Linked DNA regions of Homo sapiens: region 2 is linked to region 1. The links come from fine-mapping of genetic effects on gene expression. A gene starts in region 1. The other region holds a variant in brackets. All regions are shown on one strand. Distances are between the middles of the regions. Region 1 holds the start of RNF141 (ring finger protein 141). Region 2 overlaps IRAG1 (inositol 1,4,5-triphosphate receptor associated 1).

The links. PIP is the estimated chance that this variant, and not a neighbour inherited with it, causes the effect.
Region 2: its variant is fine-mapped to the expression of RNF141 in lymphoblastoid cells (TwinsUK, PIP 0.95).

Annotation. Positions count from the first base shown.
Region 1 is chr11:10,532,892-10,548,634 of GRCh38, reverse strand. It overlaps RNF141 (ring finger protein 141), which reads left to right and starts at 7,448. Exons shown (of 6, transcript NM_016422.4): 1 at 7,448-7,513; 2 at 14,430-14,619. The coding sequence starts at 14,477. IRAG1-AS1 (IRAG1 antisense RNA 1) reads right to left here and starts at 7,399. Exons shown (of 4, transcript NR_046375.1): 1 at 7,093-7,399. RefSeq lists an enhancer at 7,263-7,372.
Region 2 is chr11:10,606,645-10,624,476 of GRCh38, reverse strand. It overlaps IRAG1 (inositol 1,4,5-triphosphate receptor associated 1), which reads left to right. Exons shown (of 21, transcript NM_130385.4): 10 at 621-699; 11 at 14,626-14,749; 12 at 17,705-17,735. Among named protein-coding and RNA genes, the nearest start is that of LYVE1, 47 kb to the right of the region's middle. RefSeq lists an enhancer at 893-1,022 and a silencer at 6,759-6,959. The variant TG/G (reference allele first, on the strand shown) is at 8,186.

The sequences.
Region 1 (15,743 bases):
CCCTTGTTTTGTCCATCTTCCTCCATAACTATTTCCTCTAGGTATCACCACATCTAGCTGGTACTGCTGCCCCTACTAGGCACTGCTTCTATATCTTCTGGGCACTGCCACACCCACAAGGAACTGCTGACTCTGCCAGACTCTACTGCTGATTCCCTGGTAATATCCTAGGTGGCATCTACCAAGTAACAGTGCTACTTCTCTACATGATGTCTTGTCCACTGGAGACTGCTGCCTTTTCCTCCAGCAACCACAGAATTCTCTAGGCTCTGCCATCTCTGCCAAGAACTATTGCGGTTGCTATTGACTGACACCAGCACAGATACGCTGGAATTCTGAAGCCACTTTAGTATGGAAATCAAGGCACCCTTGCTGTGGTACATTCATTCCTATGAGAGATATTATGTGTAAATATGGAAATACCGGATTAGAACACCAATGAAAGATAACAATTGGCAATGTAGATTTGGAAACCATCTCAACACTGGTGAAAATTAAAGCTGTGAGTGCATGAGCACCACCGCCCCCCGGCCCCAAACATTTAAAAAATAAGAGCAGAAGGCTGAGAACAAAGTTTGAGTAGAAGCAGCCAGAAAGAAGAAATCAATGAGATAGAAAAGCCTCAAAGTCCTAGAAAATGATGAAGCTTTCGTCTTAATTTTAGGTGACTAGGTGTTCCTCTTATTCTACACTGACAGAATTAAAAGCAGTAGTGTATTGTTAGGAAAAGCACTGGACTAGTGGCCAGGAAATCTGGATTCTAACCCAGTTTAATTAACTTGCTCTGTACCCCTTAGATGAATCACTTTCCATCTTTGGGTCTCAGCTTCCTCACCTCTAAAAGAAGAATATTGGACCAGGCGATTGTTAGGCAGTCTTTTTTCAACTTTATGATTTTATGAATTACATACGGAAAGTTAAAAATGTTTACAATCCATAGCCACTCAGGGTCTTCCTCATATATTCCCACAGTCCTAACACAGATGCTTAGTGACCTTACAAAAAAGCAGGAGACATTGGACATACTTTCCTAGAAAAAAATATACCAGGCTGGGCTCAGTGGATCACACCTGTAATCCCAGCACTTTGGGAGGCCGAGGCGGGCAGATCACGAGGTCAGGAGATCGAGATCATCCTGGCCAACATAGTGAAACCCCATCTCTACTAAAAATACAAAAATTAGCTGGGCATGGTGGCGCACACCTGTATTCCCAGATACTCGAGAGGCTGAGGCACGAGAATCTCTTGAACCTGGGAGGCGGAGGTTGCAGTGAGCCGAGATTGTGCCACTGCACTCTAGCCTGGCAACAGAGCAAGACTCCACCTCATAAATAAATAAATAAATAAATAAATAAATGGAAGAAAAAATATACCATTCCAAAAGTCTCCAATTTTCCTGATCTTGACTACAGGACCATGTTTACTAGAATTTATCAAAGCCTCTGTGTTTTCTTTAACTGGAAAATACTTATTTAAAAAACTATGAAAATCTGAACATACATTACAAATTACAAGACTCATGGCAAAATGATCCTTCTTCTTATAAAAAACTTAGAGGTTTCTTCTTCCATAACTTTTACTATTTATATATGTGGTTTCCTACAAATATTTTTCTTATACTTTTTTATATGTAAGAAAAATAAAGTTTTCCTTATTCTGCTGCAAAGTAGCTTCAAAATTCCTATTCCACAGAGGATTTCTAATCTCTTCTATTTTGTTTTTTAAGATAATCTTTATTACTGTCTTGTTCTGTTTTACATTCTAATTAATTCATTATGCTCATGCAAAGGTAAGAAGAAGAAAGCTGTTGTGATGAGAAGGTATCTAGAGATGTCATTAATAATATTAATTTAATACTGATTTTAAATATTTTAGTCTTTTAGTCTTTTCCTTGTCAATCCTCACTATACTCCCCATGAGATATAAGAAGGAGTAATGGCTCTATTTTACAAAGTTGAAGGCAATTTGTGCAGAGCACTTTTCATGACTGTTTAGGCCACAATACAAAACCCTTTAAAATTCAACTAGCTATGTCTTTTTTAAACAAGTTTATTGAGGTATAATTGGCATACAATAAACTGTGCATGATTAAAATGTACGAGTTGAGAAGTTTCAACATATGCATCTGTGAAACCATCATTTAAAATCAAGAAGATGAACATATCCATCACTCCAAAAAGTTTCCTCCCACTCCTTTGTGGTACTACCCTCCCACCCATCTCCACAACACTGCTCCCGCATTCCCAGGCAACCACTGATCTGCATTTTGTCACTATACATTAGTTTGGATTGCCTAGAATTGTATATGAATGGCGTCACACCACAGGTACTCTTTTATTGCGGGGGAGGATCTGGCTTCTTTCACTCAAAATAGTTATTTTGAGACTCATCCATGTTGTTGAGGTATACCAATCAACCATTCCTTCTTATTGCTTAGTAATATTCCATTTTGTGGATATGCCACAATTTATTTTCCATTCACCTACTCATGGACATTTGGTTGTTTCCAGTTTGGGCCTATTACAGTTAAAGCTATGTATATTCATGTATAAGCCTCTGTGTAGGCATATGCCTTCATTGCTCTTGGGTAAATACCTAGGAGTAAAATGGTTAGATCATGTGGTAGGTGTATATTTAGCTTTTTAAGAAATAGCCAAACTCTTTTCCAAATTGTTGTATTATTTTACATTTCCAACATGCAGTATACAAGAATTTCTGTTGTTCCACATCCTTGTCAACATGTGATATGATCTGTCTTTCAAATTTTAGCCATTCTAGTAGCTACAGTGCACAGTGAAACCTTATTATTTTCCTGATTTGCATTTCCCTAATGATTAATGGTATTAATTCATGCACTTATTTTGTCATTTATAAATCTTTGGTGAAATGTCTGTTCAAATATTTTGCCCATTTTAAAAAGTTGGGTTGTCTTCTTATTGGGTTGTAAGAGTTATTTATGTATTCTAGTTAGAAGTCTTTTGCCAAATATATGTTTCGCAAATACTTTCTCCAAGTTTGTGGCTTACCTTTTTATTTTCTTAACAGAGTCTTTTAAAAAGCAGAAGTATTTAATTTTGATGAAGTACAATTCATCCTTTTTTTTTTTTTTCATTTATAGTTTGTGCTTTTTGTGCCATCTTTAAGAAGTCTTTGAGAAATCCAAGGTCACTAAGATATCTTCTAGAAGTTTTGTGATTTTAGCTCTTACATTTAGATGTATGATCCATTTTTAGTTAATTTTTACATATAGTATTGATGGCAGTGGCAGCCCGTCTGGAGCAGCTGCTGCAAAGATGCAAGCTGCAGTGAGGGAGGCCTGGCCAGGGCTGCACACTCCACAGAACCATGAAAACAGGAACAGGCTGGAGCCCCACCTGCTTCTGAGTTGGTGGGGTGGGAGCCCCACCCTCCTGGGCACAGCTGCAGCTGCCCAACCACAGCTGTGGACCTGGGCATCCTTGTGCTCTCAGGGGCCCAGGAAGCCCCTTGCCCCCACAGGCTTGAAAGTGCCTGCTCCTGCTGTCTGGCCTCTCCCTGCTTCTGGGGCAGAGCAAAGTTGTGGCCAAGCCCAGACGCTGTCACAATCTGGCAGGTGTGTGCATGCTTGGGGCAACACTGACATGCCAGCCCCCTGCCACCTCAGCCCCCTCTGGACTTTGGACACTGATGAGCATGGGAGGGGAAGCTGAGGGGGCGCTGAGGGCAGCTCAGTGTGGGCCTGCAGGCTCCCGCTGGCACAAACAGCCTTGGTGCCATGGACAGTGGCATGAGGCAGACTGGCTCCTGGGCAAAAAGGGGTGGGTCCTCAGTGAAACCCTACCTTTAGGCAACTGAGAGTCTGAAGCCTGGGGGCTGGGCTGCCAGGTCCTCAGACTGGAGTGAGAACTTATGGCACTTTTTCTACTGCCCATGGACCAATCAGCATGCACTTCCTCCCTCTTGAGCCCATAAATATCCTAGGCTCAGCCAGACTCAAGAAACATGGGGACAACCTGCCTGCGTGTAGGAGCTACCCACTCCAGATCTCCTCTCTGCTGAGGGCTCAGCAGACATCCTGACGACCTGCCTGCAGAAAGGAGCCACCCACTGTGGGTCTCCTCTCAGCTGAGAGCTGGGCAGACAACCGGACAACCTGCCTGCAGAAAGGAGCTACCCACTTAGAGTCTCCTGAGAGCTATACTGTCACTCAATAAAGCACCTCTTCACCCTACTCACCCTCCAATTGTCTGCATACCTCATTATTCCTGGATGTGGGACAACAACTTGGGACCTGCCAAATGGCAGGACTGAAAGAACTGTAACACAAACAGGGCTGAAACACCCCCTCACTCCCCATGTTGCAAGCGATGAGAAGGACAGAAGAGAGAAGGAGAGAAGAGCTTTGACACTTCGAGAAGCCCAGACCTAAGAGCTCCCTGAGCCAGGACTGTAACACCCTCTTGGGGGCTCTGCATTTCCTGGCATCTCAAAGCTTCCAGGTGCCACCACATTCCCTAGTGCCAGCAGTGGAAGCCGCTTGTGGTACTCCTGGTCCAGCCACAGCTTTGCAGGAGCCAGCGCCCATGCCAGCACCTGGAGCCACCCGCCCCGCCACAGCTGGCGTGCCTAGCTGTGCACAGCGGCCAGACCTCGCGCTCACTTGCTCACGCACCCCTCACCACTTTGCGCCTGGCTCGTCCTTGGCAGGCATGGGATCTGGGCCAGTGGCATGAGCCGAGTGCAGCCTGCAAGGCCAAATGGGCAGAATGAGCCCAGTGGGCCTGAGCAAAACTCGGGCAAAGGAGCCACCGGCCACAGAGGTTTCTGGCTGGCAGAGCAACACTCCAAGGATCCTGTGACAGTATGAGGAAAGGAGCAAGATATTAAGAGTTTTTTGGCATATGCTATTCAATTTTTTCAGGTTTATTTGTTGAAAAGATTATCTTTTCCCCCACTGAATTGCCTTGGCATATTTGTCGAAAATCAATTGATGACATATGTATAGATACATCTCTGGGTTCTATATACTGTTCCATTACTCTATCTATTTTCATACCTATACTATACTGTGTTGAGTAGCTCTTATTATAATGTCTTGAGATCAGGTAGTGTAAGTCCCAAAACTTTGTTTTTTTTGATGAAAGTCTTGACTATCCTAGGTCCTTTGCATCTCCATATAAATTTTAGAATTAGTTTGGTCATTTCCATCAAAAAGAAATCTGCTAGAATTTTTATTGGAATTTCCTTAAATCTGTAGGTCAATTTAGGCAGAAGTGATATCTTAAAAATGCTCAGTCTTCTGATTCATGAACATAATGTATCTCTATTTATTTAGGTCTTCTTTAATTTCTCTTAACAATGTTTTTTATTTTATTTTAGATTCAGGGGGTACACGTGTAGTTTTGTTACATGGGTATATCGAACAATGCTGAGGTTTAGGCTTCTAATGATCCAGGTCACCCAAGTGGTGAACATAGTACCCAATAGTAGTTTTTTCTACCCTTTTGGAATCCCCAGTGTTTATTGTTCCCAACTTTGTGTCTGTGTACTCAACGTTTAGCTCCTACTTATAAGTGAGAACATGCGGTATTTGGTTTCCTGTTTCTGCATTATTTTGCTTAGGACAATGGCCTCCAGCTGTATTCATGTTGCTGCAAAAGATATGATCTAGTCCTTTTTGTGGTTGTATAGTATTCCATGGCGTATATGTACCACACTTTCTTTATCCAATCCACTATTGATAAGCACCTGGGTTGATTCCATGTCTTTGCTATTCCATAATATTTTATAGTTTTCAGTATACATGTCTTTCTCATCTTTGGTCAAATTTGTCCCAAATTTGCTGCTTTTTTTTTTTTTTTTTTTTTTGCTGATAAGAGATATTTAAAAATTTTCCATTTCTAATTGTTCATTGCTAGTATATAGAAATACAACTGATTTTTGTATATTTGATTTTGTATCTTGCAACTTTTGTAAACTCACTTATGAGTTCTAGCAGCTTTTTTGTAGTATTCCACAATTTTCTTATGCAAATAAATGCAGTGCTACAACTTCCTTTCCAACTTGGATGCCTTTTATATATTTGTCTTTTTTTATTTCATTGACCAGAACTTCCAATACAATGTTTAATTGAAGGCAATTTTTACAGAGTAATATTTCTAACTCCCAGGCCCGGATTAGGCTGAACTATGGAATCTTGTTGAATTTGATATCTTTTGGAATTTATTAAATCATTATTTATACTTCATTTTTAAGCTTTTTCCTTTTCCAGTGTTCAAATATTCATCAAATGTTCAAATATTGAACAAGTACCATGCTGGCTGTCAGGGAAATAATGGTGCACAAACAGGCATGGACCTAGCGCTAATGAAGTCTTACCGTACTACCGAGGCAGTTTAAAACAGGAATTAAAAACACAGGTTCAGGGTTCTGTCTGCTTGGGTTTGAATCTGGCTCTGCTCCTTAATGGTTGTTTGACCTTGGAAAAGTTAATCGACTTTTCTAAGCCTGTGTCTTAGTGAAGGTATTAATAATACCTACTCACAGGATTGCTGTGAAGATTAAACGAATTAATACCTTTAAAGTCCTTAAAATACGGTTTGACATATAGTAAATGGTCAAAGAGTATTATTATTAGAGGGAAGAATTAGCTCTTCACAAGGTGAATCTACAAGTGACTGGTGAAGGAGGGGTGTACAAACAAGAAACATAAAAACCAGTTTAACTGCTAAGCATAGAGGCAGCAGTGTCAGCTGTACCTGGGTTAAAATCCTTGCTCTGCTGTTTATTGTCTAGGCAACTTTGACCAGACGACTTAAACAAGAGCAATGCCCGTAAAGTGCCTAGTGCAGTATTTGGCACACAACAGATGCTTAAAAGACAGCAATTACTGATTCAGACGTCCCGCAGAGCAGTAATATCACTAACATGTGCTCATCATCATATCTATCATTTATCAAAGCTCAGGATTTTGAACCTTGTAATTACTTTTCATACATTCTCTTATGCTTAACAACTCGGCTAGGTGAACACAATCCATTGCCTCATAAAGAAACAAGATGACCTTTGTGTATCTATCATCAGTGGGGAGGCTGGAGGTCTGGGAAGTGGTACCTTGGAGCCCAACTGTTGACCAAACCAGGGCTCTCAGTGCGGCCTTGGTCGCCAGCGGGGCGCTCCACTTTCCGCTCCGGAGATGGCACCAGGAGAGATGGGAGTCTGCCAGGCTGTTTCCATGGCCACCTCATGAAGCCCCTGCTCCGGGAGCGTGACAGGCGAGACTCTCCTTCGCCGCCACCTCTCGTCTCAGATGACCATCTGGGCTCGAAAGCCCTCAGGAGCTGCGGAGCGCGGGTCGGTAGGGGCGCTGCAGAGGAAGGTTGGGCGCCGTCTCCCGGCAACGCGCGGGGGGCGGGGCTTTGCGTCACAGAGGTGCGACCGGGTCCCGGCCTGAGTCGCGGCCACCCGCAGGTCTGAGCTGTGGGCTGAGGCAGCGCAGCCGCTGCCGCAGGGTGCGCGATGCCTTGAACCTGGGGTGAGCTCCGCGGCGCTGTCCTTTCGTGTTTCCCTTGCTAGCTGCTCCAGGACTCTGGGTCTGGGAAGAGAAACCCCAGAGGGCCCTCCGCTGCCGAGCCAGGCTTCCGCGGGGAGACAGGCCTAGCCCCGCCGCCCTCCCCGGGCCTCGGATTGGGGCGTGGGGACGGCTGGGGAGGCCATTCTATTGACGCCCGTCTTCTGCCCGGCGGGTTCCAGTTGCCCGGGGTGGCGGTGGCTTGTCCCGCCTCGGGGTGGTTCTGAGGGACCCGGAGAGAGTTTTTCCTTCTCTATCCCAAAACGGTTGTTTGAATATTGCCGCCGGCTCAGTCATTCGGCCGCCGGACTTAGCTGTTGGTTAAATGTCCAGGTGCGCTTGAGGAGGGGCTGAGGCGGCGTAGCCAGAGCGAGCGCTAGGGTGGCCCGCGGGCTCGGTCTCCGCCGGGCTGGACACCCAAATAAGAAACCTTTTGCCTGGGACGATAGCTCAGAAATAGCCACGTCGATCTACTTAGCCAGCCCCACACTTATGAATTGGCTTAGGCTGCTACCCTTCCCAAAGGTCTTTCCTTGTCAAACTAGCTGCTACCTTGAGACCCGGCTAAGAAAAGAACGTTTTCTTGCTAATAATAAGAAGGTAGTGATTACACAGCAGGAGCAGAAGGCTTCTGTGTTAGCTTTTGAAATTATTCCTTCAGTTATTTGTCTCGGCGTTACAAAATGTGGATTTACGATTGTTATTGAAATCGATCCCTATGCCCCTTATTAAAGGTAGTGTACCTTTTATATTCTGACACTGTCCTATTTAGCGGTGCCAGCTAATTCAGTTCTTGCCTCTGGCATATATATAAAGCTGCTGGAACACTTTCAATTGTTTATAATTCTTACATCTTCAGCACGAATTTATTCGTTTTCACTCCCTTCTGCCCATTCTTCTTGCTATAAAATGACCTCTACCCATTCAGAATTTTGTCTGGGGGCATGAGCTGCCACCGGCCGACGATCCTAAATTAGTCACCTCCATGTCGAAGTCACCCGTCTGAGAAGTGATGCTTTCTGAATTCAGAGCTCAAAAATAGTATGGATTTTTATCCTTTTCTTTCACATTGCCTGACTTCAGTTTCTAGAACTTTTTCTCAAGAATATGACTATATGTTTCAAAAATTAATATTTGTCATTTGGTGTAAATGAACTTTATATTCGATGTGTGTAGCCTGATCCTTCTTGGTTCCCATCTAAATACAAACACGCTTTCCTTCCCAAAAAGGCAAGGGAGGTCCAGAGAGAATTCTTACAAGTCTAATATGCTTTTTCCAATATGAAATGCATTTAGTAAACACACTGTTACTGTGAGAAATCCATATTCTTAATCTCCTAGTACGGCACTCTATCCTTTTGTAGTTTCTCTCTCCTTCTCTCTCTAATATATATGTATGTATCTTTTTCTGATCAAGATCTTTGATTCTGGAACAGGCATTCTGGACTCTATAGTGACTCTGGCCTAATTATTTCACTATGTATCTATATTAACTTGTCTTGAAAAAAAAAAGTTGATATCTGTTTACAGATCTACAGTTTGAGTAAACAATGAGTAATAAAGTAAATAATATCCTTAGGGACCCAGTCAGTAGTACTTGGTATTTATTACTGATGTTAAAGTTGACTTGACAGTGAAAATCATTGATGTTTATTTCAATTAAATCCTTTTAGGTGAGGTTGATACAAAATTTGATGGAGAACTGGTTTCAGAGAGGTTTTTAAAATACTACAGTGCAGTACTTGTCATTTAGTCATTTTGGTGCATTTTCAGCCTTTTCCATTTTGCTTTAGTTATTTTATGAATGAATTATGGTTTAAATTTTTAGGAGTTTTTGAGCAGTTTTTTCGTTTTTGCTTTGCCAGTTACCCATGATGTAATTTTAATATTTTTATAAGGAATATTTGAACTTCCACAATTCATTTGTTAGAAAAATAAGTGATTCACTATGTACCACCCACTAGAGAATGTGGCATTTTTGGAATCCTTGATCTTGTGCATTTCAAAATAACAGTTCTTTATTTAGAAAATCCTTCAAATGCTTTTTGAAAGCATATTTTTATCTTGCAAAAAATGACTGTGTTATAGGTGGCACAATAATATGAGAGCTGCTAGTTCTTTGAGAAATCTTGACCAGAAATTCATCTTTTGTTGAATTCTGTGCCAGTGGTTTGCAAATTATGTTTCTATGCAATACCACTGTTGCATGGCCTAGGGGGGAGTATCTTGTTAAAATCAAATAGTAAATGTTTCCCAGTTTACATAAGCATTAATTTAATGACAGATTTTCACAGTTTTACATTTTCTTTCATACATATTTTTAACTTCTGCTTCTCTCCAACCTAGTACTAATAGATGACTGACCAAATTAACAAAAGTCAAAAGAATACTAAGTGAATAATAATAAAACAAAAACTGCCAATGGTATTTACTGCATTTATTCAGTAAACATCTATTGAGTGCTTGTGTATCTGCCAGAAGACAGACCATAGCTGCTGTCCTCAAGAAGCTCACTAGAGGGAAATGGCCAAGTGACTTAACGAATGTCATAGTATGATAGAAATATGTGCAGTCACCAAAGAGGGACACTGAAAAGCTGTGGTGGTTGACTAGAGGATGGCCTCAACAGATTGTTTTCGTGAACATGCACTCTGTGTTGTGGTTTTATATTGTATGCAGATCACAGAGTCATATCTTATTTTCACACCCATATAGTGATAGATGTTAATATTTATCAATATTTTATGGTTTTCAAAATAAACTAAATGTCAAGCCCTCTTTCTGGAACCAGGTTGAAAACCACTTCTGCAGGCTCTCTCAGGTAGTCTCTAGATACTGTTGCATTTTAATGCAAGGAGTTAGTGATGAAGTTTCCCAGATACCAAGTACAGTTACAAGATAACAAGTTAATATGCTGCCTCAAATTATAAACTTTACTCAAAGTTAGGGCAGCAGATGAAAACAATGCTGAAACAAAGGGGATCATTTTCTATTAATAACTCAATAAATAAGCAACTAACTCTTCTTTTGAAATATGGTTTTGGTGGGTAATGTAGGGTAGCAAAATACGCCACTTTGGCATAAGGATTATTTTGAGTTAAAAGCACATTGAAAAGCAGCAGATGTAAGAAGTGCCCACTGACCCTCCTAATTCTTCCTGAAGGCTGGAGATAAAACAGCCATGTGAAAGATGTCCTCTCTATGCCAGGAGGAAGACATTATCATTACTAGAAGTGGGCAATCAAAGCTGAGAGAAATGTGTTCAAAGAAGCCTTCTTAAAGTAACCCTTATCTTCCTAGTCACTTTTCTGTGATTAACTGGCCCAGCCCAAACCCTTGTGTCTTGTCATGTTTTCACAGTTTACTTCTCCTTTGTCCAATCTACTATGTAAGCTTTTGGCCTTAATTACTTTTTTTAGTCCTTATTTTTCTTGAGGGCTCCTGTGTATGTATAAAAATTACTAAATAAAATTTGTGTGTTTTTCTCCTGTTAATCTGTCTTAGGTTAGTTTAATTCTTGGGCCCAGCTGGAGACCTCAGAGAGCAGAGGGAGAGAAATTCTATCTCCCCTATACCACGTTGGTTAAATTATCATAGGTATTTATATTAAATATTGAGACTATATATTTCAAAAGTTCAGTTTTTTTCTTTGTTAAGTAATGTAGATATTATTCAAAGTTTTCAGCCTGGTTGACTAGAATCTTAATTACATTTTCATTAAATTGGTACAGGAATGTTAGAGGAAGGTTCAGTTTCATTTTGGGAATAAAATGTTAGGTTAAAGGTCACCTACTCCACTTCCCACCCAGGTAAAAATCCCTGTAACACTTATTAGATGTACTTCTAATCTTTACCTAAACACTTCCATACTTCCAATGAGAGGGAGCTCACATGTAGCAGCCATTTCCACTTCTGGATGGTGCGACATGCTTATCATCAACTGAAATCTGCCTTTCTAATTTATACTTACTATACTTAGTGGCCATCCCATTCTCTGTAAATGAATCTTGTTTTTCCACATGACAGCTCCTCAGATATTTAAACAAACTTATATTGCTTCATTGTTACCAAACTATGACTATCTAGAATAAACCTCTTTTTTTTTCTATGCCCATGAATATGTTCTAATTTATTAGTATCCTTTAAAGCCAACTGCTTAGAGCTGAATACAGACTTTTCAGTGTGGCCTAACCATTGCAAAGCATAATGGACTAGTAGGCTGCTTGCTCAAGATACCTGCTTCTAGCAAGAGTTTAGGATTATTTTAGCATACTTGTTGCCCCCGTTATACTGTTGACTTATTTTGATTAAAAACCCCAGACTTGGCCGGGTGCGGCAGCTCATGCCTGTAATCCTCGGCCTGGGAGGCCGAGGCGGGAGGATTGCTTGAGCCCAGGAGTTTGTTACCAGACTGGGCAACAAACTCTGTTTGTTTAAAGAGACTCCATCTCTTTAAAAAACACAAAAACAAAAACCCAGACCTTCTGTATTTTAACTGCTTTTGAGCACATCTTACATATGTGTTTTTGTGCAGTTGGCTCTTCAGGATATAACTTTTAGTCATATTAAATAGCATGTAAGTGTCTGTTTTAGTCTTGATCCTATTATTCACTAGATAATATTCATTTATTCCAGTTTTGGTCATCCGCAGATTGGGCAGGCATACAGTCTTCAGGTCATCAACAAAAATGTTAAACAGCCCAACTCTTGGTGCCAGTTTCCCTCTCCCTTTGCCTCTCTGCTTTAGTCCTTGTGGCCTTTTTAAAAATTACCTCAAAGTCACCGTGCTGCTTCCTGTCTCAGGCACTTTTCATAACCTCTGCCTGGAGTGTCCTCCTTTTGCCATTTCCCTACTTTTTTTTTAATCCCTAACTCTGACCATTCTGACCTCAAGTAAAATGTTGTTTGCCCAGGGACTTCTTCCCTGATACAAAACTAGGTCAAGTCCCCCTTTTATAGGCTTTCACAGCACCTGTACTTGTTCACCTAGCACTTCTCATTTTGTAATTATACATTTATTTGTGTGGTTACTGTCTCTTCTCCACTGTATTGGATGCTCCACAGTGGCAAGAACCATGTTTCTTTTGTTCACTGTTTTATCTCCAGAACATAAGCACCAGGCACGTGCTACTTGTTGAATTTAATTTTAAAAAAGTCCTGTAACACAGTGGCTCCCTAATACCAGTCTGCAACCCTTGGCTTCTGATGATGTTTTCATAAGTTTGGATTCGATCAAGAAAAATAAGGACAATGTGTAGTATACCTGGTAAATATGTGGTATACCTCATTGTGAAGTTACTGCCCTTCTTGGGAAAGACTTTTTTTCTAATATTATATCCTACTTTTCAGGTTATAAGTTCTTTTTGAGATTTTTGTTAAGTTTTGGGGAATTTTTGTTTATTTTTGGAAACTGTCCTTGCTTAGAATTAAAAGAAGTATCCAACACCATGGTGCTTTGAGATTTTACTAGTCTTTGAAATTCAGCAATCACTGTTGTTGACTGCCCTAGAGACCTCTTCTAAGCTAAGATCTTTAATTGTTTCTTCTTGGATACAGTTGCTGTAAATCCACTTGGCTATATTTACATATAATTTGACTTCAGGGATTTTTTTTTTTTTTTTTGGCCTGGATCTTCCTCAACAACTTCCTTTCATTTATCTCTATAATGTGATATTTATTATTACCAAGTAGGCTCAGATTCAAAACTGTTGTTTTTTGTTTTTTTTTTAAATTACAATTGTCCTTTTCCTATTTTAGGTAACTAAAGGAATTAACTTCAAATACAGTACATTAAATTTTAATACCTAAAGGAAATTTTACATATTTTGGGGTTACTAACTTCATAAAGTTATATATATTTTAAATTTATAGCTTTATTTTTTGATTAATGATAAAGCAATCTTCCTACCAAAACTTTTTCTATAAGAGTATTACTGTTTCACCTGCTTTATGTGATATGGTTGTTAATTTGGATGAAATAAAATGATAGTCTTTGATGGATAAATAAAATAGAATTTCTTGGGGGGGCATCTGATTTTGGGGGCATTTAAAAACTTGATAATTAGATATATATTTTGGGGGTACCTAAAAGAGTTAATGAACAAAAGAGCTATCTTTTTCCAGGCAGAAAATGTGAGGTGGTTAAAATATCTAACATTTTAATTTTCTTAGGTTTTTCAAGCCACAAGTCTTTTTATATATTTTTAAAAATTAAAACTAAGGTACACATCTATAAATAAAGTAATTCAACAAAAAATTATTTAGCTGATGTAAATATATTGTGAGCCAGTATGTCATAGTGGATAAGAATGTAAGTACTAGAATCTGAAAAACAAATTCAGAGTTCACTTTCACCACTTACAGCTGTGTAACTTTAGATAAATCACCTAGCTCAGTTTCCCTGTCTATGGGAAATAGGTAGGGGTGTAATATTGTCTACCTCTTAGGATTGTTGTAAGAAGTAATTGACATAATATACGGAAAACAGTTTGGAGCCTGACATGTGGTAAGCAGTCAGGAAATGTTCTTAGGAAAATTATAGAAGGTAGACAAACTTCCTCTTAAATACAATTACTTGAATGCGTGTGTGTGTGTGTGTGTGTGTGTGTACACATGCACATGTGCTTTAGTGGTTTTTGACTTGGTAAAATTATAAGAATTAGAGGTTCATCACCCTCCCAATAATATATAAGTGAATCCTGTTTTCTCATTTAGCTATGTGAATCTGAAAACAGAGTCATTTAAATTCTACCTTAGACTCATGTAGGTCTACTCAACTCTCACTTAAAGGTATCCCTAGTTTTTCTTTATGTTTTTGAAGAATGAGTATATTGCCGTTTTTGTATAATATGTAAAAGTAACTTTTCTGTATATTTGACAGAAACTATGTGAAGCAACACTCTGGATTTTGAAAGACATCTTTTCATCATGGGACAGCAAATTTCGGATCAGACACAGTTGGTTATTAACAAGTTACCAGAAAAAGTAGCAAAACATGTTACGTTGGTTCGAGAGAGTGGCTCCTTAACTTATGAAGAATTTCTTGGGAGAGTAGCTGAGCTTAATGATGTGTAAGGCTTGCTCTTTTTGTTTTTCGTTTTTCCCCTTGTTGTATGTATGCCCCATATGTCATGGCTGTGTAAGATATAACCAGAGGTGTTGATTGGTAAGACTTAATGTTTTCAGTTAGCATTAACAAATACTTATTGAGTATCTATTATAAGTTGACTTTCTATGTAGCTTTTTAAAAGTATGTAATGGGGACAGAAGATATGGAAAGAACTTAAAATGGAACTTGGAACACAGCACAGGCATATTGAAGCAATTCTAGGATACAGTAGTACATCCCAGCATCTCAATTTTATACCAATAGACTCTTGTTTGAAAGCACTAAAGGGGTGCATAACAAAATGGAATATGAGAATTAGCCACTCTAGAGAAAGACTCCTAGGATAGTCAAAGGTAACACTGAGAAGGTTTCTGTACATGAAGCAATTCATTCATGTGTGTGTGTATATAGACACACACATGCATATATATATATACTTTTTTTTACTGTGTCATCATTTTGCTAGAGGAATACATATGTAGTAATAGCTTATTTTCATCACTGAGAAATAATATATTTCATTTATTCATATTTTCTAATTAATTAACACCTTTAAATTTCTACTTAACTCTTTGACTAAATTTCTAAAATGAAATATAAATTTCTCTGCCTTCTTAAAGAGTACACCTAATACAACTTAGTCTTCTATTTGTTAATTTATTTATCAATTTTGGTATTGATCTATGTAGAAGCTATGAAAATATATAGGGCTCTTTGTTCCTGAATGCCCCCAGACCACTGTGCTTTTAAAATATGACTTTTTTGCTATTTATTTTCTCCCTTGGTGACAATTGGGCAGATGTCATATCTTTCTTTTAAATCTGCCTCTAGCAACATCCACATCTACCTTTATTTATGTATATCTTCTAACCCCTGGGAGTATAATTAGAACCTGTGGAGTCACCTCTTAAATGAGATCTTAAAGGTTCTCTGTTTAGTCTCTTCAACTTAGCTAACATTCACTAAGCACATAGTATGTGCAAGGCCCTCTGCTAAGGATTGGACCTTTTAACTGAGGGCCAAGTTGATTACGCAGGTATTAATGGCATGTCCACCTCTCTGAATCTCAGTTTTCCTGTTATCCCA
Region 2 (17,832 bases), 75 kb before region 1:
CACTTGGGCCACATCCCATCTCTCCCCGGGCTCTGCCAGCTGAGGCCCTAAGCCAGCAATTCTCAGGCCTCACTTTTCTGGAGAGTTTAAAAACTCAAGAGGTGCCATAAAAGGCCATTGATGACCTGAGTGTGTGGGGCAATCGCAGCTCCTGGAAGTGAGCAGTCACTGCCCGGAATGACAGGGCAGGAAGATCCAGCCAGCCATGAGATCGCCAAAGCTGTTTCCAGGAGCAGCGCCATACACACCCAGGGGACCCTCCTGTCCCAGAGCCCTTAGTTCTGCCCCTGTGTGTCCTTTGCAAACCTCAGCCACAGTGAGGCCAAGCAGTTCATTTACCCTGAAGCCCACAGACTTGTTTAAAAAGACCATGCCAAGGGTAGTCCCTGACCCATGGAAAGTGGTGCTGACAGTGGCGTTTCAGGCACCTTCACGGACTGGGAGAGGAACTATTTCCTGGTGCTTCTCAGGCCTCACCATGCCATGCCTGCCCACCCACCTCTCAGGCTGCCCCGCTTTCCCACCTAAGATAGTGGTCGCAGAACCATAGACAGAGCCAAGAGAACAGCCCAGCCCAGTGTCATCATCTGAAATTGTTATCTCTTTCTTTTACCACAAAGGAGCACATCCTGATGAGAAATCAGAACTTAGTGGGGCTCAAGCTTCCAGACCTTAGTGAAGCAGCTGAGCAGGAAAAAGGTAGGTGGGGTTGGGGCAGATGCTGTCTCAGCGAGTGCTGATTTGTCTGTGCCAGATCAAGGAAGGTGAATGTGTAAACACAAGACTTCCTGTGTCTTCCTCAGGAAACATTTGCTGGTGAATGAATGAATCCGATTGTGTCTTCTGCCCGCTCAGCACCTCCAAACCTGCCTCCTTCCAACCAGCCCCCAGGCCTCGCTGTCAGCCCTCCCTAAGCCATGCTGGCATCTAGTGGGCCTGGAAGGGTGCCTCAGGCCTGAACTTTTGACACTTCCTTTTCCTCGTACACCCAGGAAGCTGCCCAAACTGAAGAGTTCCTCTTTTCAAGGCATCACGGCCATCTCTTGCTTACTAATCTGCTGTCACCACAAAGTCCATACCCCAGCCCTGCCCTGCTGGGTAGCTGCAGGCCCCTTCCTCCAAGCCTCTGGTTCCCTGTCCACCTTCTGCCAGAACCATGGCGGGGAAAATGGTTCTGAAAATGAGGCTTCAGCCCCCGCACTGCCTCCCTCTCTGCACTCACCTCTGCCGATGTTCTCAGTAGGGTTCTGACCCCTCTAGATCTAGCTGGGCAAGTCCAGCCCTGCTCCCAGTGCCCCCAACACCCTTCCTCGGCCCCATTCTCCTGCATGAGTATGTCGAGCCCCACCACGAGTTGGAACTGTAAGCCCTGCTACCACTCAGGTGACCTGGGCAAGCTATTCAACCTCCCTGGGCATGTAAAACCAGGCTAAGAACAGTACCTGCCTTCTTAGGTGATTATGGAGATTAAAGCAGCTAATATCTATAAAGTACCTAAAACAATACCTGGTACATGACAGGTGTTATCTAGGTGTCAGCTATTATCCCTAGAGAAGAAGCCCCCAAGGGCAGGAGTGTGTGTGTGTGTGTGTGTGTGTGTCCACTGCTTACAACAATGCCTGGCACTACTAGGGCCTGCATAGGTATTTGTTGAATGAACGAATGAAATTGTATGAGATGTGGCAGGGGGCTAGGTGAACCTGTAATCCCAGCACTTTGGGAGGGAGGTGGCTTGCTTGAGCTGAGGACTTTGAGACCAGTCTGGGCAGCATGACGAAGCCCCATCTCTACAAAAAATACAAAAATTACCTGGGCATGGTGACACACACCTGTAGTCCCAGCTACCCGGGAGGCTGAGGTGGGAGGATCGCTTGAGCCTGGGAGGTCAAGGCTGCAGTGAACTGTGATCGTGCCACTGTACTCTAGGGTCTCGCTCTGGGGTACAGAGTGAGATCCTGTCTCAAAAGAAACATTTTTAAAAAGATGTGGCAGGAGCATTGAGATAGGTACATGAAAATAATTTGTAACTGTAACCATAGTGCCATGAGGTGGGCAAAGAGGCATGGGTGAGTGGAGAGAGATGAGTGTTTCCAACAGGCCAGGCTCCTGGCTCTTCCCTCTTCCCAGAGCCTCTTCTCTGTGGCCACTCACCCTCTAGCCTCTGTGCCTCTGTCCCCGCGGCATCTCCCTCCTGCTGGGCTATCTCCCTCCTCTCTGAGTCATATGGTACCTGTTCCTTAAAGCAGTGGGTTAGTCCCACCAGCTCTGCAATCTTCTACTTTCTTGACTTTCTTTTGTATTTTACTCTATATAGTACTCCCTTTTTCAGAGGGGGTGGGGGACTATTTTTTATTGTAAATATATATAACATTCAACTTGCCATTTTAGCCATTTTTAAGTATACAGTTCAGTGGCAGTAAGTACATTCATATTATGAAGCCATCACCACTATCCATTTCTAGAACGTTTTCATCATTGCAAACTGAAATGCCATACTCATTAAAACAATAACTCTTTATTCCCTCCCTCCCCAGCCCCTGGTGATCACCTTCTACTTTCTGTCTCTATGTATTTGACTCTTCTAGATCCCTCCTAGAAATGGAATCATACAGTATCTGTCCTTTTGTGTCGAGCTCATTTCAATTAGTAAAACATCTTCAAGGTTCATCCGTGTCACCTAGTCCTTTTAATTCAATCTTAATTAATAAACTTCCCATAGCATTTTCCACAGTATAAACCATTTTGTTACCTCTGATTTTATGTAATCTTCCCAGTCAGCTAAGAGGGGCAGGGATTCTTGCTCTTATAGTTGAGGAAACTGAGGCCCGAGGATCTCCTGACTCCAAATCTCATGGTTTGGCCATCTCATGAACAGTTTTAAAACTTTTTTTAAGCTGCACAACATTTCAGACAAGCTGATCTGTAGGAGGCCAGCGTGTTGGGGAGATGCAAATGGGGCTGCTCTGGTTGAAGGGGATAGAAGGGCTTGGATCCTTCATCTTCTGAGACTGTGGGCCCAAGGTACCTCCAGGGACCCAGGCTTCACAGAGCACCATTTGAAAATCCTTGCCCCGCTTCAAGCTGCTGGGGGCCAGTCTCAGCATAAGAGCCCTATGGATTCTTGGGTGAATGTGTCCAGGATGTCACTAACAATGGTGGAAGCCCCTGGTCTGAACTGTAGTAACTTACACCTACCTATTTATTCAGCATTAATAAGAAGGTTCCCAGAAGTAAAATTTCAAACAGTGTTTTTTCCCAAGGGCAAAATATTTTAAATAACCATCTTTAAAGAGATCTTTTGAAAATGCAGCATATACTTCTCTAATTATAATTTTAAATTTACTAAAGCATATTTAAAACACTGGAAAAAACACTTTAAAATTTCACCCACAACCCCATCAATTCTGAAAAACTAACAATTTTTCTTCTTTGCAATATTTGCCCATATTTATAATGTTTTCAGTTGATTTGATGAATAGATACAGCTTCTTTTTTTTACTTGTTATTTTATACTCAGCAATTTCTCCTCAGTTATGATTTAATGGGTGCATAGTTCCTCTTGTATTGACCTATCTATTGTTCTTTGAACTAGGATTAACAATGCTAGTATAAACAATTATGGACCGTTAGTTGTTCTTTTTTCTTCCTTTAAATCATTCCCTTGAGATAAGTGTTCAGACTTGAGAATCACAAGGTTAAAGAGTAGAAACATTTGCATTTCCCAAATTACTTACAATGAATAACGCTACTGACAAAGACTGAATGGACATCTTTCTCTTACGCATTACCCGTGCTGGTGTTTGCTTCTGCTCCTTATTATTCAGAATATAGTAAGAATAATCAATAATTGTCATTGTTTTAAGTTTATTATTATTAGTGTGAAATTTCATTATTATTTCAATTAATTTGCTAGGAAGCTCAAACTTAAAATGTTAAAATAGTCACTTTGTTTTCTTACTGGGTGACTTAACTTCTTACATCTTTGCCCGTGTACCCATTTAGGTCTGGGGTTTTTCGTTGATTTGTTTGGTTTTTGTTGGTAATATATGTAAACTTGATACATTATAGATATTAGCCCTTAATTGGCTTTCTTTCTTTTGGGGGGGGCTGTATTTTAATATATTTTCATTCAATCTTTTTTTTGCTTTTTAATACGTTTTGTGTTATTTTAGAGGAATTGTAAAGATTTTACATAATCATGTTTGCCTATCTTTCCCTTTGAGAAGTCTTCTATTATTTCAATCATTATAAAAATACTACTTCTCCCCAGTTGTAATAATATTTCCACTTTTTTTCTCTATTAAAAACACTGTTATAATGAATACTATCTTACATAGATCTTTATAGAAATCTGTTTTTTCCATGGGCTACTATTCTAGACTTGCAATTGATTGGTTAAAAGTATTTACTTTTAAATGTATATGTGCACACTGCCAGATTAGCTTACAAAATTATACCAATTTAGACATCCACTACCTACAGCAAAACTTTATTATCCAATATTAATAGGGCATAAGATGGATCTTAGAAGTAAAATTATCAGGCAAATGAATGTGACTCCTATAAGCACCAAATTTTAAAAATAAAATTAACCATGGTCAGTGTCCAACAATATACACTCCCTCTCATTTTCTCTCAGTTCTAGGGTCTGGATGCTTAAGAGCTCAGACTTCATCACTTACCAGCTGCATAGCCTTGGTCAAGGTTCTAATTCTCTCCACGCTTCAGTTTGTTCATCTTTTAAAGGAGGTTAATAACAGTACCTACTTCACTAAGCTGCTGTAATGTTTGCATGTGATACTGGTCTTTATTCCAGCAGGAACCTGGCATACATTTTCATTTCTGTCATTTAGGTTGTAGAACTCTATCTTGCCAACCAAATGGGATATTCTTGTACACTGTGCTCCACAGTGCTAGAGATGTGGTGGGCAACCCTCCGTGTTTAATGAATACTTGCAGACTTGTGACTTTCTTTTCTTATATTCTGAAAGCCCCATCAAAGAGCCCCGTCCCCTCCCATACCCAGGATAAAAGGCTTTGGGAGCATTTTATGAGAGCTGGCTCAGATTGTATTTATAGGCACTAAATACAGCCCTGCATATGAACTCATGGGGAAAAATCCAGTCTCTTATGATGGTTGTTGGCTGTTCCTTTGAGAAATGGGAAAAGATACTTATCAGAACATTCTGGAGTCTGAAGAATTTTGGCTCTCCTTCAGTTTGTGAGGACTGGGAGGCTCATTTCTGTGCTGCATCTAGTCTTTCCAACAACCCAATCAGTTCCCTTCTCAGGAACTATATTGTATGCTGTTTTGATCTTTGATCAGTTGCAGGTTATTTCAAGCCAAATATGTGAGACTGACTGTGGGCCAGTTCTTAGGCTGTGTGCTGGGGATGCATTAAGTGAAAAGGGTTCAGGCCCCACCATCAGGGAGAAGGCCTTGTCCCAGCTACCATTATCAGTCCCCTTGGCTAACTCAACAGCCTGCAACCTGGTCCCCTCTCCCTGCACTCCCAACCCCCAACCCAGCTCACACCATGGCCAACACAGCAGCCGCAGGGATCTCTAGAAGGCAAATCTGTTTCAGCATCTTCAGAGGCTTCATTCTGCTCTTAGGAAGAGCACTTGAATCCTCAGTAGAACCTACAAGGCCCTGAATAGTTAACCCCACCCACTTCCCCAGCATATTCTAGGGCCACACTCACTCTCACTCACAATATTTTGGCCTGCCTTCGGCAGCTCATTCTTTCCTCTTCTTACGCATGGCACATTCTGTCTTCTGCATGGAATGTTCTTCCTCTCTCCCTCTTTGCCTAATGAACTCCCAACTCAATCTTTAGATATCTGCTCATGTCACTTTTCTTGGGAAGGGTTTGCTGGTACCTTCGGATCCCTTCTCCTTTGTAAAATCTCTCAGTGTGAAATTGTTTGGATGTTTCTCTGATTAATCTCTGTTCCCCTGAATAATGAGCTCCAGAGGATGTGGCATGTCAGTTTTGCTTAGCATTGTATCCTTAGCTCCCAGCTCATTGCCAGGGACATAGTAAACACTCAATAAACATTAAACAAATGTATGAACGAATAAGCTCACTGTCTAGGAGAGGAAACATAAGAATAGACAAAGTCACTACGATAAATTGTGATAAAACTTTAACAGGCCATAAAGTACCTGGGAACAAAGAGGAAGAAGCAGCTAGCTCAGTGGGGTTGAGTCAGGGAAGGTTTTCAGGAGGAGCCACCTTGAGCTGGGGAAGAGAAAGTCATCCCAAGCAGGGGGACAGCAGAAGCAAAAGCATGTAGGCATCTTCTAGTGCTTGGCATACTTCAGGAACAGAAGGAATGTCATGTGAACTAAGTGTGAGCTACACGTCCCAGAGAGATGGGCAACAAGGTGGGAACAGTGGGCTGAGACCAAGGAAATTGAAGGCTTTGAAGGCCAATTAATGAGTTTGAATTTCATTTAGGACACTTTGGAAAGAGAAGCCTGCAGGTAAGGAAGCATCAGGATCAAATCTATATTTTAGAATAATTCTTCTGGACAGATTGTGAGAGCTGGCCTGAAACAGCAGAGGCTAGAGACAGGGAGACACCAGGTAAAAGGATAGGGAAATAGCCTGGTGAGAGGTAATGAGGTGGTAGTAAATGTGGACAGGATAGTTTGACAGCTATTGGAGATCAGCTTGTCAGGACTTGATGAGGAGATGGAGTTGAGAGGCAGACCAGGAATACCACCAGGCACCTGTCTGCATGGTTGTGAGGGTGATGAATTGTGAGACAGGAGGAGGAGTTTGCTTGAGAAGGAAGACAGTGAATTTGAGTTTGGACATGTCAAATGCCCACGGAAAGCAGCTTGAATGCAACAGACAAACCTGGTTTTGCATTCTGGCTGTACTGCTGATAAGCTGGACCCTAGTAAATCACTTTAACTCAGCTGAGCTTCAGTTTCTCCAGAAAATGCATTTCATAATACATTCTTTGTACTTTCAGAAACCAATTTCTCTTCTTTGGAGGAAGCAATTACCAAAATTCAGCAGGTCCTACAGTTTCACTTCACTTCAAGTTCAATTAAACTCTAATACTTTTAATTTCAAAAAAGTATATCTAGTATAATCTCCCTCTTTTTCCCTTGCTCCTTCTGTATTTGTGGGGAAGGAGGTGTTTAAGCTATTTTTTATTTGCAGTACTATTGTAAGAAATGACAAAGTGTATCTACTGCATAGTTGATGTTCAGTAAATGGTGGCTCTTGAAATGATTTTTATTCTCCTTAACCAGGTGGCAACGTCTAGAAGGTAGTTGGCTATCTGGACCTGGATTTTGAGGGACACGTAGGCTGAGGCAGAGAAGTACATCGAATGGACAGTCCTTCCAAAACCCCCAGTCTAGACTCAGAGCCTCAGGTCTTGGGCAGGAAAGAGGCCTCCCTGAGAAGAAAGAGGTAAAAAAAAGTTTATCCCCAACTAGCAGCTTTGACTTTTAGGAACCATCCTGGGACTCAGAGCATCTTTCAGAGCTCCAAAAGTAATTTTTCCAAGTCCCTGACATGGTCAGAAACAAATATTTTCATTGGAATGAGCTAGTCCTGGGAGATATATTTGAAAATAAATTTATTACTTTTTGTTGAAAGTGGCTTATGTTCATATCTAAAAATTCAACCAATAGTGAAAAATACAAGGAAGAAAGTAAAAATAGCTTACACTAAACACCTCCTTCCCCACTAATACAGAAGGAGGAAGGGAAAAAGAGGGAGATTATACTAGATATACTTGTTTGAAATTAAAACTATTAGAATTTAATTGAACTTGAAGTGAAACTATAAGACTTGCTGAATTTTGGTAACTGCTTCCTCCAAAGAAGAGAAATTGGTTTCTAAAAGTATAAAAAATGTATTATGAAATGCATAAAGGGTTTGGAGTTACTGAGGTAGTTTTTTGTTTTTTGTTTTTTGTTTTTTGTTTTTGCTTTGGTATGAGTTTTAATTCAATTTTTATAAATAATCATGTCCATAGTACAAAATTCAAAAAGTACAAAATGAGACATAGGAAAAAGTAAGTCTCATTACATCTCTGTCCCCCAGTAGCAGAGGCAACCACTGTCACTATGTTTTAGTGTAACTTCTAGATATATTCCAAGCATTTCTAAATATAGACATATATGTAAAAGTGGATTTTTCTTTTTTTTTTTTTT[TG/G]AGATGGAGTCTCACTGTCACCCAGGCTGGAGTGCAGTGGTGCCATCTCAGCTCACTGCAAGCTCCACCTCCCGGATTCACGCCGCTCTCCTTCCTCGGCCGGGACTACAGGCGCTCGCCACCACGCCGGGCTAATTTTTTGTATTTTTAGTAGAGCTAGGGTTTCACCACGTTAGCCAGGATGGTCTCGATGTCCTGACCTCGTGATCCGCCCGCCTCGGCCTCCCAAAGGGCTGAGATTACAGGCGAGAGCCACCGCGCCCAGCCAAAAGTGGATTTTTTAAACATAAATCGTAGTATATTATACAAGGTGTTCCAAACCTTGCTTTTTTCACTTAGTAATATACTTTTTTTTATTATTATACTTTAAGTTCTAAGGTACATGTGCACAACGTGCAAGTTTGTTACATATGTATACATGTGCCATGTTGGTGTGCTGCACCCATTAACTCGTCATTTACATTAGGTATATCTGCTAATGCTATCCCTCCCCCATCCCCCGGACCCCACCACAGGCCCCGGTGTGTGATGTTCCCCTTCCTGTGTCCAAGTGTTCTCATTGTTCAATTCCCGCCTATGAGTGAGAACATGCGGTGTTTGGTTTTTTGTCCCTGCGATAGTTTGCTGAGAATGATGGTTTCCAGCTTCATCCATGTCCCTACAAAGGACATGAACTCATCCTTTTTTATGGGTGCATAGTATTCCATGGTGTATATGTGCCACATTTTCTTAATCCAGTCTATCATTGATGGACATTTGGGTTGGTTCCAAGTCTTTGCTATTGTGAATAGTGCTGCAATAAACATACGTGTGCATGTGTCTTTATAACAGCATGATTTATAATCCTTTGGGTATATATCCAGTAATGGGATGGCTGGGTCAAATGGTATTTCTACTTCTAGATCCTTGAGGAATCGCCACACTGTCTTCCACAATGGTTGAACCAGTTCATAGTCCCACCAACAGTGTAAAAGTGTTCCTATTTCTCCATATCCTCTCCAGCACCTGTTGTTTCCTGACTTTTTAATGATCGCCATTCTAACTGGGGTGAGATGGTATCTCATTGTGGTTTTGATTTGCATTTCTCTGATGGCCAGTGATAATGAGCATTTTTCCATGTGTCTGTTGGCTGCATAAATGTCTTCTTTTGAGAAGTGTCTGTTCATATCCTTTGCCCACTTTTTGATGGGGTTGTTTTTTTCCTGTAAATTTGTTTGAGTTCTTTGTAGATTCTGGATATTAGCCCTTTGTCAGATGAGTAGATTGCAAAAATTTTCTCCTGTTCTGTAGGTTGCCTGTTCACTCTGATGGTAGTTTCTTTTGCTGTGCAGAAGCTCTTTAATTAGATCCCATTTGTCAATTTTGGCTTTTGTTGCCATTGCTTTTGGTGTTTTAGACATGAAGTCCTTGCCCATGCCTATGTCCTGAATGGTATTGCCTAGGTTTTCTTCTAGGGTTTTTAGGTTTTAGGTCTAACATTGAAGTCCTTAATTGATCTTGAATTAATTTTTGTATAAGGTGTAAGGAAGGAATCCAGTTTCAGCTTTCTACATATGGCTAGCCAGTTTTCCCAGCACCATTTATTAAATAGGACTCCTTTCCCCATTTCTTGTTTTTGTCAGGTTTGTCAAAGATCAGATGGTTGTAGATGTGTGGTATTATTTCTGAGGGCTTTGTTCTGTTCCATTGGTCTATATCTCTGTTTTGGTACCAGTACCATGCTGTTTTGGTTACTGTAGCCTTGTAGTATAGTTTGAAGTCAGACAGCATGATGCCTCCAGCTTTGTTCTTTTGGCTTAGGATTGTCTTGGCAATGCAGGCTCTTTTTCGGTTCCACATGAACTTTAAAGTATTTTTTCCAATTCTGTGAAGAAAGTCATTGGTAGCTTGATGGGGATGGCATGAAATCTATAAATTATGAGGTAGTTTTTTTGCATTATAGGTTTTAAATTTAATCTAAACTTTGGACCTGGCATTTGTTTTAATCAGGTATGGTATGACACAGAGACCCACAAATGATTCTCATGAAGGAATAGGTTTATACTCACAGATCCCTAATAGCAGGATGTGTGGCACATCATACAGAGCCCCTTGGGGAAGGGCTAGGGTGGGTCAGAAGGCAGAAGTGGTGAGGGGAGAGATGGCCCCAAGCCTTTACTGGGGTTTTCTTGGAAAGGAAAGGTAGAGGCAGGGTAGGTATCCTCAGTATGTTTAGGGTTGGCTAGTTTGAATAATTTTGGCAGGACCTAGGCTATAGGGTGGCCCGTAGTTGTCAGGTACTGGCCCTGGGGTGATTTAGGGGGAGTATTGGCTTGGTGCGTGAGAATTTGATAAAGGTGATGTTTACAGGTGTGGGTTCTGGATTGGCTGGTTTGTATTTCAAAGACACACTTGAAGGAGAGTTGTTTCTAGGAATTAGCTAGCCTTGAGAGGGGCTGTCACTCCAGGATTAAGGCACCAAGTGACAGAACATCAAGAATACGGAAGATAAGAACATGTAGTCACTACAATGGTACCTACTGACTTCCTGCAGGAAAAGATGAGAATGGCCGAATATCTTCCCACCTTCACATTTCTTCCTACATTTCCATTTCTACCTCTACACATCTTGAATTCTTCTTTGTACATCATTAAGGTTATAACATTTACATTCCATATTCTGTAACCATGGTTTCCACAGTTATTTAGCCTTAGACTTAAATGTAAAAAGATTTCATGTTCACCACTGGTCCCTTTCCCAAATTTATTCGATTTATGTCTTGTTTAGCTGGATTTTGTTTTCCAACAATTTTCCTGAAAGAGTTCAGAGGTGCTGTGTTCCCTGAGTTCTATCACATTTGAAAATTTTGTCTTTTCTTGAAGGACAGCTTGTGTGGTTACAAAATTCTTGGTTGACTGTTTTCCTTGGAACTGCGTAGATGTTGCTCCCCTGTATTTAAAGTTATGGAGAAAGCTGGGACCAGCTGATTTCCAGCACCTCTTAATCTTCACTTTCCCATGTAGATGTCTGGGTTTTTTTTTTTTTTTTTGTATGAAGCATTTAAATATATTTTTTAACATGATGCGGTCTGTCAACCTGAAGGGTTCAACTTTCCCCTCAAGTGAGGAACATTTTTCTTCTGTTATATCTTTGAATATGTCCTTTGTTCCATTTGTTTTGTTCACTGCTTCGGAGACAACATAATGCATAGATGGGTCATCAGAGTCTCAACTCCAGGTCCATTATTTTATCTCCATATACTTCAATCTTTCTTTCCTTCTTTGCATTCGTTATGATTACTCAATCTCTACCACCCTCCTCTAATTCAGCTTGAAGCTATATCTGCTTTATTCCTTCATTTTTCCAATAAATTGGTTGGTTGTATATTTCCCAATTTCTTGATTAGTCCTTTTATTTTGGTCTTTAATTTGTTTCCTTAAATAGCAATCATCTTCCATCTTTGCATGATCTTCTCATCCCAACTCTAATTTCTTAATTTTTTTTCAGGTTATTTTTTCTAGAGTCAAAGTATTTATGGTATATATTTTGCACAGAAGCATACTTTTGCATTTTTTGATGTGTTTCTTGCAACTATGTTTCCATCCTGACATCTGTCTCTTGCACATTTCCCTTTTCCTTCCTTTCTACCTTCCTTCCTCTTTTGTCTATAGTATTTTTGTATAGTTGCCATGCCATCTGTTTTCCTTTTATTTTTTTCTGATTTGTATATTTCTACCTTGATTCCCTTTCCCTAGATATATTGTATTGTAGGTTAGTTTTTGTTGACTCCTTCCTACCTTAGCTGGGATCTCTTAGCCTTCCCTTTAGTGCTTTAGTTGAGGATTGTATATTTTGTGTTTGTTTTGTTACTGCTTAGGTGGTGGGGAAAAGGGGAAGTTAAGATAGAGCTGTTTGTAGAATTGGTTTCTTCTCTTTTTCCGTAACTCTGTTCATAGTCCAAAACGTGAGTTTGTTATACCAAATCGGGGGCATATCTTATTCCTTTGGAGGTGGTTAGTAGTGGGTTTCAGATTGTTTCACCAATTTAGGTTGGAATTGTAGAGACAAGCTGTCCGTAGGTTTATTTTCCAGACTTGACCCAATGCTTCCCAACGGCTACTCCTCTGCTAAGAAAGGAAGGAAAAAACGGCAAATCCAAGGAGTTTAGCCACTGTTTTTCAGGAGTCGGGGGAGAACATGGTGGTTGGGGCTTTCCATGTGTCTCCTGCCATTCACTCCTTCAGAGGGACGTGTTTTATTTACTTTACCGTTAGTCTTCCTTCCTTGTAAATCCCTTCATATCATTCAAGAAAATCCACTCTGTGTTCTGTGCGATCATTCTGCCTTTCCTCTCTTCTTCTCATCAGTAAGAAAAGCAAAATGGCAGGCAGCCCAGGCAGTTTTTTCTCTCTTCGAAATGCTGGTAAGATGGAATGGAGAACCTTCTATTCTAGGGAAACTTTCTGAATCTCCTCTGACAACTGCCTACTTGCCCCCTCCATCCCTTTCCCTCTCTATTCTGTGGTATTGAACTCTTTGTAAGAATTTTTTCTCTCCCATCTTCCTTTCAGTACTGATTCTTTGGAGAAGAAGAAAGGGTTATCATGGGTGGAAGCTCTACATTTATTCCTAGTAATTTTTATTCTTTCTCTAGTCACTATTTTTAAAGACTATTGCCTTTTCTTGTATCTTAGAGTTTCTTGTGTATTTTTTATTTGTTCTGAAATTTTTTGTTGTTAATTTGGTTGAATTCAGGAGGAAGGTGGTTGGTTCCTAGAATCCACCAATTCTGGCATTACTCTTCAAGCACCATTTTGGGAAACTTTTCTAGGCAAAAACCCTGATATGCATTTCACTTGATTATTAGACCTCATATGTTTCGATCATCCTATAGATATCTCAGGAGCTTGCTACTCAGTTGACTCTCTGTTGAGTGTGGTAGGGATACATACATAAAGGTAGAATGATGCCAGGGGTGACACAAGGTTTACCACAGAAACCTTGTCAGAGAGCTATAAATACCAGGACAGAACCAGAGAGGTAACAGGTAGCTAAGAGAACTTCTAGTTGAATCTCATATCCAAAGAAGAATTGCTGACTGACCCATCTCTGACAGATGATCCTCCAGCTTACTTGGCTACCTTGAGTACCAAGGAATCCATGCCTACCATTCTCTTACTGGCAAGCTCAAAGTATTTAAACATATTTTACCTTGAGCCAAACTAGATAGCCTCTTGTCTCTTCATGGTCTCCTTTGGTGAGACTTCTTTCTATTCACATGATTCCCAGTCTTAACTCTTCAGGTGGCTACAACTATGCCTATAGTCCTGGTCTCTAGCCTAGCCTAGGATCCTGGAAAATGATTGAGCAGATTGGAAAGCTACCAGGTTAAAATCCAGGAGAAAGAGTAAAACATGGATAAATATGAAGTTCTACATGCAAATGGAAAGTAACCATTATACAGGATGAGGATAACTGATTTGGGTCAACTAAAGAGGTTGAGAGTTTTGCTTAATGCTAAGTGTACTGTAAGCCCGTAGTCAGGCACACAAAATCTATGCTGCATGAATAACAAACATCAATGCCAGGGACATTTACCAAAGTCTTCCTGTGCTAAGATCTTGTTAGAGAACATCTGGGCCTCTGTAACAGCAACAAACCAGAATGTGTGCAGGAATGGGATGGTATCTAGAGACCATGGGCCACAGTGGAGCACAGTGAGCTTGTTGGAAAAATGGAGCTAGAGTCTGGAGAAGAGAAGCTTTAGAGAGGCACAGGAGCTGTTTTCAAACAGGAGAAAGATTTATGGAAAAGAGAATACTTGGTTTGTTCATTCTGTCTTCAAAGCACAGACCCAAGATAGTTTTAGAAGTTTAAAAAACAAAAAGCTGTTCATTGTCTCTGTTGACTAGGAGGCATTTATGTTTCTGAGATCTGTAAAAGATCTAGCAACCTTAGGTTTACTCTGGAAAATCTCTTATCTATGGGGTATGGAATCAGATGTTAATTTCTAAGTAGGATACATAATATAGAACATTTTAATTTATCCGAGGAGGAATAATTGAACAACAGGTCTCCTGAGAAGCCTGCCAAGGAGCAGGTTTTTTTCCCAAACATTATAGCCAAAGAGCCAACCAGCTTCCAATTGCCAGCTTAATACTGTGGGAAGCAAAGGGAAGAACATAACATTTGAAGCAGGTAGACCTTGAGGTCTGGCCATGTCATTTGCTAGTTCTGTAATCTTGAGCAAGTGACTTAACCTTGCTGAGCCTTGGCTTATCTACATGTGAAATGGGATGACTAAGTTCTAGCTCATTGTGAGAATAATGTAAGATAACAATTAAAAAGCCCTTAACATAGAACTAGATACTTATAAATGTCAAAGCTCCTGAAGCTAGCTGCCAACAGTACTACTGTGATTTCAAAGAGACATTTTATAAGTAAGCACTTTTTTTTCAGGGCTTCCTTCTGAACTCTCCCCAGCTATTGAGGAAGAAGAGTCAAAGAGTGGCTTAGATGTCATGCCTAATATTTCTGATGTGCTGCTGCGCAAACTGCGGGTCCACAGGAGTCTCCCTGGAAGGTAAAATCAGGATGTGGGTTACAGAAGGCCCTGTACCGAGTGGCCCCTGTGTTGGATTCTAGGTGGGACACAGAGGAACACCAGTCTTAATTCTTGAACCCAGAAGGGCCAAAGTCCAATTGTCTAGATAGGGATAATGCATTCGAAACAAAAAGAATAATGAAAGGCCAGGCTGGGTGTTTTCAACTCAAAGGCCAGGTGGGGTTCTTAGGTGAGCACAGTTCATGAAGGCATAAGGGTCACCAGAAGCTCATGGCAGCAGAGAATGGGCTTTGAGCCAGGAGACATGGGTTTCAATCCCAGATACACCATTTACCCATGACTAGTTAAGTTTTCAAATATTTTTTTGTAGAGATAGGGTCTTGCTATGTTGCCCAAGATAATCTTGAACTCCTGGCCTCAAGTGATCCTTCTACCTCGGCCTCCCAAAGCACAAATAACATTTAAGTAACCAAATGAATGATTTGAAAGAGTAAAGTTGGTAGAAAGACCATAAAATAGGGCACATCTAGAGAATGACATGAGAGTGGGGCATTGGGTAGGAGGTCAAGGAAAGGCCTCTGTGATAAAGTAATAATTTGAGATGTGCAAATAACAAATGACAAAAAGCCACTCATGCAAGGGTTTTGGTAAGATTTACAGAGGAAAAAAATTGTAATTTTAACAAACGGTGCTGGGACAACTGGATAGCCACATACAAAAGAGTGAAGTTGGACCCCTACCTCACACAAAACACACAAATTAACTCATAATGGATCATAGACCTAAATGTCAGAGAGAACACTATAAGACTCTTCAAAGAAAAAATATAAGTAAATCTTCATGTCTTTGGGTTTTTTAGATATGGCACCAAAAACACAAGAGACAAGATTTTAAAAATAAATAGTACTTCCTCAAAATAAAAACTTCTGTGCTGCAAACAGTGTCAAGAAAGTGAAAGGCAACCCACAGAATGAAATATTTGCAAATCACTTATCTGAAAAGGAACTTGTTTCTAGAGCATATAAAGAAGGCTTACACTCAATAAAAAGATAAATAACCAATTTTTCAAAATGGGGAAAGGATTTAAATAGACATTTCTTCAGAGAAGATATACAAATAGTCACTTAAAAAAGATGCTGTGTCCTTTTAGAGGCTCACAGCTCTGCCCCCGGGTACCTATGCCCATTTGTAAGGCACAGTTATCTGCATCAGACACCAGACATACCATGTGGCTTCTCTGCCTAAATCATACTTCTCTGAGTCCTCAGAGTTTCCCCCCAGACCCCCACTTTTTTTTTAAGGTGGGTATGTTCTAACTGGGTGTGGTGGCTCATACACCTGTAATCCTAGCACTTTGTAGGCTCAAGGCAAGAGGATCACTTGAGGCCAAGAGTTTAAGACCAGCCTGGACAACAGAGTGAAACTCTGTTTCTACAAAAAATAAAAATAAAAAATTAGCCAGGTATAGTGGCATGCACCCATAGTCCCAGCTACTCTGGTGGCTGAGGCAGGAGGATTGCTTGAACCCAGGAGTTCAAGGCTGTAGTAAGCCACCTCTGCAGTGATCCTGCCACTGCACTCCAGCCTGGGCAGCAGAGCGAGACCCTGTCCCCAAAAATAAATAAATAAAATAAAAATAAGGTGGGTGTGTTCTACAGCAAAAAAGCAGAATGTGAGTCATTGAAATAGAAAAATGTTTGGTTTATAATTTATGAAAATATGTGCATTTCACATAATATCCCAACAAACCCAGGAGTCAGAAACAAACTTGGCAAGTTTTGCCAAATCATTTAAATCATATGTGTATGCTGTAGATGACAGTTAAGGCAAGGGCCTGATGGGTGGGGTTGTGACAAGGACTGTAAGTGTCAAACATCCCTGCAGCTGTTTGTCCCGTGTTCTGGACTCCGCTGACTTCATGGCCATGGGGTCTTCTCATCCTGACAGGAAGGCACTCATATCATTCCCTAGGGGTGAGAACCAGCCCCCTGCAGAGATGGCTGACCCCTACCTTTGCTCTTGGGGTCCCTTCACACCCGTTCAAGAGAGGAAGCTGTGTTTCCTGAGAAGCTTATTGATGGCATGCTCTGTTGCCAAGTTCTGTGACGCTGGTAGGACCCCTCCCAGGCCTCCCCGCCCCAGCACAGGAAAGGGCCTGTGCATTATTTACATTGTGTGGACTTCAGATGGGGCCAGCTTTAGTTACCAGCAAGAGCAGCAGCCACAGCAGCATCGAGTGGACATGCAGATGCAGGGACTGCCTATAGCTGGAGAGCCCTGGCTGTGGGAACGCCACAGACGAGGAGCTGCTCAAAAGGATGCCTCTGTGTCGGCTGGGGCTTTCTTGCCACTCTGTGATTCTAGCCATCAGAAGTTCTTGCTGTGGAGAAGAACCCTGGTCACTCTCTCCTACCATTTATTCTCTGGCCCGCATGCACCTTTGTCACAGCCCTCAGAGACAGAGGAGGGTGAGGCTTTGCAGACCTGGGTGGATATCCCCAGAACAATTATAATGGCAACTTAGATGTGTATGAGTTATAAAGTCCTTATCACATGCATTTTCTTATTTCTCACAGCAAGGCTATGAGTTCAAGGTCACATTTCCCGAGAGCCCACTGAGTGTGGATGCCATATATTTATGCATACAAACACATACACATACATACATGAGTACATATAGTGCTTATAATACCTCTGCAAGGTAGGTGATATGATTCCCATTTTGCAGATGAGCACGCTGGGGCTTAGAGAGATTAAATAACTTGTCCAAAGTCACAGAGATAGTCATGGTGCCGTAAGAGTCAGTATCTCACAGGTGACAGAGCACAGGCAAGGGGACATTGCATCTTTTCCTTCTCACCAACACAGCTTACTCCACCCCTGGAAACACATGGTCTGCTGGTCATTCAGAGTCACCTTTGGGTCTATTGACTAGGTTGCACACAGTTCAATTGTGTGTTTTCTTTTTCACAGTGCCCCTCCACTCACTGAAAAGGAAGTTGAGGTAAGTGACTCAAGTGTGTTATGAAATTTAGTGCCCGTGCTTGACTGGGCTTATTCAAAACATTTCTTCCTCCAGACTCTAGCTCTGACATTTTTAG